Homo sapiens: one gene and its partner. The protein of the gene in region 1 interacts with the protein of each later gene in a biochemical or structural test. Each region holds a gene or a part of one and is shown in the gene's direction. Other genes may lie near its edges. The genes, in order: LIMD1 and TRPV4.

What was found.
Region 2: the proteins of LIMD1 (region 1) and TRPV4 interact in a test that uses a peptide from one of them, tested with the Homo sapiens proteins (one large-scale study listed by BioGRID).

What each region holds. Positions count from the first base shown.
Region 1 is NC_000003.12:45,684,046-45,686,912, forward strand, and holds the end of LIMD1 (LIM domain-containing protein 1), read left to right. Parts: 3' UTR 1-2,296; downstream 2,297-2,867. UniProt on the Homo sapiens protein: Adapter or scaffold protein which participates in the assembly of numerous protein complexes and is involved in several cellular processes such as cell fate determination, cytoskeletal organization, repression of gene transcription, cell-cell adhesion, cell differentiation, proliferation and migration.
Region 2 is NC_000012.12:109,826,582-109,830,402, reverse strand, and holds part of TRPV4 (transient receptor potential cation channel subfamily V member 4), read left to right. Parts: intron 1-2,800; exon of another isoform or gene 2,801-3,593; intron 3,594-3,821. UniProt on the Homo sapiens protein: Non-selective calcium permeant cation channel involved in osmotic sensitivity and mechanosensitivity. Activation by exposure to hypotonicity within the physiological range exhibits an outward rectification.

The sequences.
Region 1 (2,867 bases):
ATGATTGAGACCTTGTACTCTAGGTGTAAAAAAACAGAGTAGGTCATACTCTGTGGGTTATGGTCAGAGAGATCTGGTTAGAAGTTCCCAGGTAGGCGACAGCCCTAGATGTGTGACACTTCTAGGAGAATCTCTGGCTATGTGGATACGTCCAGGTGTGTAAGGCAGCCTCAGGGACTGCCACCACTTGGTCACATACATGTCCCTCCAACTAATCCTAGCTCTCAAGGACAGGTGGTTCTGGGCCCTGTGTTGCCCATGAGACTTGGTCCACGGCAAGCCTGTGACGGAGTGAAAGTGAGGGGACACCCAATTTGAAAACTCGGCAGGAAGCCAGACTCCATGACATACAAATAGATCAAAGTGAATCGGCTCCGTTGTTTGGGGAAATACCTGAGGTTTGTTGTTTCGTGCCAAGAAGATTAACAACACGGACACACGTGGGTGGGTTAAGGAGCAGAAAGTTTAACAGGCAGAAAAAAGAGAACAGCTCCCCCATGCAGAGGGAGGAGGACTCCGAATGGATCTCCCCATTCCTGGCGGGAAGCAGACTGATATATAGAGGAGGGGGTTTGAAGAGGTGGTATTTGATTTACATAGAGCCCAAGGGATTGGTTTGACCAGGTGTGCCATTTACATAGCCCTCGAAGAAACTGGCCATTCCACCTTGATCTTTTATTATGCAGATAGGGTTTTTTACTTGGCCAGAGCCTTGACACCTGCACACATGGCAACAAACAGAAGGGAGGCGAAATCTTCCATATTGGATGCACCTGTCTTCCAGGTGCAGCTGCCGGCATTTATCTGTGCAAGCTTCTAGCTTGCTTATTTATGCTTGCAGCTTGACTTTTCAGGCTGCTTTCTGTTGGAAAAGAAATGGTTTTGGGGGCTGCTTTTTATTAAAAGAAAAGCCTTACCAAGGACTCCTGTACCCTATCTGCCTAAATTTTTTTTAACTACTATATTAAAAGGTCTGTAAGTGGGAGCTGGCCCTAAAAGTAGGTTGTAGAGATTATTTGGATGTGCCAACAAGCTTCATCTGCAGCTTGGACTGTCTCCATTGGAAGGCCTCTGGCAGATTTTGTAAAAAGTTATATAACAATTTTACTATAGGAAAAACTTGGCTACAGATATGAATTTATATTACCCATCATTGGCTGGTTCCTTATCCTGAACATTGGTTTCCTTGGAATCTGATTTTGGCTTGTTTGGCCTTTAAAAACCCCAGAAGAATGGGGTTTCTGCCAGATTATTTTCTGGTTTTCAGTCTCACTGAATGTCACAAAGGCCTTGGTTTATGGTTCCCAACTGGTAAAGAAACGTCAAACTTTGCCTCTCTTAGTTCCTTCTACATGACAATGGGTGGCAGTTGCTCATATGGAAGCATTTCTTTTCCCCCTAAAGCCTATGAGACAGGCTGCAACTTAAACCCCTATTTTATTAAAGGAGAGGAAATGTCCAAGAGCCCAGAGATAGTGGGTAAAAGCATCATAAGGACTAGAAATGGGGTCTTCTTGTTGCTAATTAGTAGGGGTGAGGGGTAAGTGGCAGATGTGACTGCCGTCCATGCCCAGACAGGGAATTGTCCTTGAACCTACTCATGCGGTGTCTTCTGGGGTACAGTGAGTCCACAGGGCAGGACGGCCTTGGAGTCAAGAGCCCAGACTCACATTCTATCTCAGGCTTCATAACTCAATTGCTCCATGACCTTAAGCCAATTTAGTTCCCTCATCTGTAAAAATGGGGATAACAACTGAATTTACCTCATGGGATTGTGTAATGCCCAACCTTGTTTTTACTAACCCTGTTTTTAGACTCTCCCTCTTCCTTTAATCACCTAGCCTTGTTTCCACCTGAATTGACTCTCCCTTAGCTAAGACAGCCAGACAGACTCCATCTTGGCTCTTTCACTGGCACCCCTTCCTCAAGGACTTAACTTGTGCAAGCTGACTCCCAGCACATCCAAGAATGCAATTAACTGATAAGATACTGTGGCAAGCTATATCCGCAATTCCCAGGAATTCGTCTGATTGATAACGCCCAAAGCCCCGGGTCTATCACCTTGTAATAGTCTTAAAGCCCCTGCACCTGGAACTGTTTACTTTCCTGTAACCATTTATCCTTTTAACTTTTTGCCTACTTTATTTCTGTAAAATTGTTTTAACTAGACCCCCCCCTCCCCTTTCTAAACCAAAGTATAAAAGAAAATCTAGCCCTTTCCTCAGGGCTGAGAAAATTTTGAGTGTTAGCCGTCTCTCGGTCGCTGGCTAATAAAGGACTCTTAATTCGTCTTAAAGTGTGGCGTTTTTCTAACTCGCTCAGGTACAACAATTGTTGTAAGGAATGATTGAATTCATCCAAGTAAGGGAATTAGAGCAGTTTCTGGCATGAAGTAATTGCTCAATAAAGTGTGTCAGGTTTTAAGATTAATTGATCTTTACATCATGATAAATGGCAACAAAATAAATGACAAATGGATTAAAGTAAATGGTAAAAACAACATAAGAACAAAACATTAAAAAATCATATAATAGAAGAAACCAAATATTAGTAAGTGTGAATATATAAAGTGAAAATTACTACAAGTTCAAATATATATATATATATATATATATATATTTTTTTTTTTTTTTTTTTTTTGAGACAGAGTTTCACTGTGTCACCCAGGCTGGAGTGCAGTGACGTGATCTCAGCCAACTGCAGCCTCCACCTCCCAGGTTCAAGCAATTCTCCTGCCTCAGCCTCCTGAGTGGCTGGGACTACAGGCACACACCACCATGCCTTGCTAATTTTTGTATTTTTAAATAGAGAGAGGGTTTCACCATGTTGGCCAGGCGGGTCTCGAACTCCTGACCTCAAGAGATCCA
Region 2 (3,821 bases), on another chromosome or scaffold:
CACTTACTGTGTGCCAAGCACTGAGTCAAGCACCCTCAGCACATTTGGATACAAAACTATTTTTGTCTCTATTTTTCAGAGGGCAGAATGAGGTCTAGAGGGTGAAATCTCTTGCCTGGGTTCTCTCAGCTGAGAAGGGGCAGAGCTGGGACCTGAATCCCATTTGTGTGATTGCAAATCCATCCCTTCACCTGTAAGGTGGCCCGTCCCCATTTGTCTGGACCCTCATTGGGGTGCCTGGGGTCATGGGGGAGCTACTCTGCAGTCCAGAGATAGGAACCTGAGTTGGCCGGGTGCAGTGGCCCACACCTGTAATCCCAACACTCTGGGAGGCCAAGGCAGGTGGATCGGTCGAGCCCGTGAGTTTGAGACCAGCCTGGGCAACATGGTGAAACTCTGTCTCTAGAAAAAATACAAAAATTAGCCGAACGTGGTAGCACGCACCTGTAGTGCCAGCTACTTGAGAGGCTGAGGTGGGAGGATCGCTTAAGCCCAGGAGTGAGAGGTTGCAGTGAACTGCGATTGTGCCACTGCAGTCCAGAGCAAGAGATCCTGTCTCAAAACAAACAAAGAGCCTGAACTGCAGACAGGCCTGGGCTTAAACTGCATCCGCATGTTTAAGACAGGCCTGCTATTCCCCGCTGGAGGAGCTCAGGGAAGCCACCTGGCCTCTCTGGGCTTCCATTTCCTCCTGTGTCAAAGGGACTCTCATCCCACTTTGCAGGGATGACCCAAGGCACGTGGATGGGGCTCTGAAGCACAGCTCTTCTGCCTCAGCCCGTGTCAGCTCCCCTTGTCCCCAGGCCCATTCCAGGGCATGTTTTCTTCCAGCTTATCCCCCAGACATCCTCAGAGAGCCCCTCCATGCCAGGTGGGTGGGTGGAAGGTATTGGGGGCAAAGCTAGACTTGCATTTGGGCAAATAATGATATGTTTTCAGCAATGAAATATTTATGAGCATTGACTGAGTGCCAGGAGCTGTCAACTTTTTTTACTTTCCTGATTTAATGCTTAAAAACTAGGGCTGGAGCCCAGCTGCCCAGGTTCAAATCCCAGCTTCCAATAAGTTCCATTATTCCTTTGGCCTCAGTTTCCTCATCTGGACAATGGGGATAAGGTAATGCCTGCCTTGCTGGGAGGTTGTGGACAGTCTTCAGCACAACCTTGAGTGTTTAGTTTAAAACCAGCATCTATTGCCTGTTGTTCACTTTTTTTTTTATTTATTATTTTTAGAGACAGGGTCTCAGTCTGTTGCTCAGGCTGGAATGCAGTGGTGTGATCATAGCTCACAGCAGCCTCGAACTCCTGGGCTCAAGAGATCCTCCTACTTCAGCCTCCCAAGTAGTTGGGACACACCCAGCTTATTAAAAAAAAAGGTTTTTTTCAGACAGGGGTCTCACTATGTTGCCCAGGTTGGTCTGGAATTCCAGAGCTCAAGTAACCCTCCTGCCTTGGCCTCCCAAAGTGCTCAGATTACAGGTGTGAGGGCTGATGTTCATTTTGATGGTGTCACAGCTTCCCCACTGCCGGGGGTGGGCAGGGGCAGGAATGCTGAGCCCCATTTTACAGCTGAGGAAATCGAGACTCAGAGAGGAAGCAATTTACCCAGGGATGCCCAGCTGGCTCATGGCAGAGCTGGAGCTGGAAGCCAGATCTGAGTGACACTGGTGTCCTTGGGTCCACGAAAAGCCCAGTGGCCAGCTTAGCTTCTTGCGTGGAAAGCTACGCTAGGCTCACCCACCTTGGCGTCTGAGCCACCTTAGCTTACCTCCCAGCTCCGCCAGTTGCTGCTCTGTGACCTCAGAAAGTGGCTTAAGCTCTCTGTTCCTGGGCTTTGCTGAGGTCAGAGCTCTGCCAACTTGAGGAGGGATTTGGGTTATTCTGGCTGCTGCTCTTGTTCTGGCCTGGGCTCCTTCAACCTCGGGTGCCCTTGCAGCCCATGAGCTGGCACCCCAGTGGCCGGACAGGAATGAGGAAGGGACAGGGCCTCACTTTCAATGTGACTCTGACTTCCTTCCCACCCCTAGCCCCTTCCTGAGCATTGGTTTCCCCTTTCTGCCCCGAGCCCTGGCCACTGCCGGCTGTGTGACCCCAAGGAGGTTACATCACTTCTCTGAGCATGTTTCCTCATCGGTGAGGGAGGATCACACGAGACCACACCAGGCGCACAGGAAGCCCTTGCCGGTCTCCAGATGAGGTCAGGGCATTGGAAAGGCCACAGAAGGAGGCGGGGGCTCAGGGGACAGACAGGCGGGCCATTGACCAAACGGGAATATCCTTCTATTTCTTTGGTTAGTGAGTAACAGCAGCCCCTCTTGTCCACCCACCCTGCCCCTTGCACAAAGAGCTCCTCAGTCTCACCAGGCGCCCGTTTTCCCCTGAGGGTGGAGTGGCCTGGGTTCCACCCGGTTGACCGAGTGGGCTGGCCACCTTCTGGGACCATTCCCTGTGTGTGTGTTTGTGTACGTGTGTATGTGTGTGTATATTGATGTGCGTGTGTATGTGCGTATGTGTGTCTGTGTGTGTATGTGTATGTGTGTATATGTATGTCTATATGTGTATGTGTATATGTGTATATATGTGTATGTGTGTATATGTATGACTATATGTTTATGTGTATGTTTGTGTATATATGTGTGTATGTGTGTATATGTATGTCTGTGTGTATGTGTGTGCATATGTGTATGTATATACATGTGTATGTGTGTATGTGAATGTCTATGTGTGCATGTGTGTATGTGTGTGTATGTTTGCGTGTATATGTATGTATGTGTGTATATTGTGTGTATGTATGTGTATATGTGTGTAATGTGTATATGTATTTGTGTGTAGTGTGTGTGTGTGTGTGTGTTTATGGAGGGTGGGTTCCATGGGCTTTGGGCTGAGACCCCAGCAGGTGAGGGTGGGACAGGGGGCATGGGGTTGACTGACCCATGGGTCTGGCTCACTCCTGTCCCTGCTTGGCACACAGGAGGGGCTCAGGAATACCTGTAGATAGAGTGAAGGGATGAATGAAGGAAGGAATGAGTGACTGGACAAGCCAGCCAGGCAGGGCATCAGAAGGAAGCACCTGCTCAGATACAGGCTCTGGCTCTGAGACCAAGTGTGCTTGAGTGAGTGTCCTGGTCTTGTTGAGCCTCAATTTCTTCATCTATAAAATGGGCTCACGATAGTTGTCCTCATGAGAGGTGTTGGTCTTATAGGCCAGAAAACCCCACACATAGCAGGTGCTCCGTAAGCTGTCTGTTAAAAAATGGATGGGAGGAAGCTAATTAGTTAGCTGGGCAGAGGTTCGCTTTGGAGACCTGTCTGCCCTGGAGAGAATGACTAAGCCCGTCTTTCACTCCTTTCCTCTGTTCATTCATTCATTCATTCATTCATCCAGCAAATACATCTTGAGCAGCTGCTATGTGCCAGGACCTGTTCCAGGCATCTGGGCCTCAGCAGTTACCAGAAGGGAGTCCCTCCGCCCTAGAGCTTTTGTCCGAGTGACATCATTCCACACGCAGTGCTTTGAGGCCACTTTGTGAGACTCTGATACCCACAATGACAAGTAATCCAGCAGTGGGAACTGTGATGAGCTCCCTTTTACAGGTGAGGAAACTGAAGCTCGGAGAGGTCAAGTGATCCGTCTGGGGCCACGCAGTTACTAAATGGCAAAGTCAAGATTCAGACTCCAAGCCTGTCACCACTGTGCCATCTTGTCCTGCTGAGTTCCAAGGGATATGGCGTTGAGAAGGGGGGTCCTAGGGAGAGGGCATGGTAGCCCCCAAAGGGATGAATGAACTCAAATGGATTTAAAAGCAGATGGTTGGAAGTCTA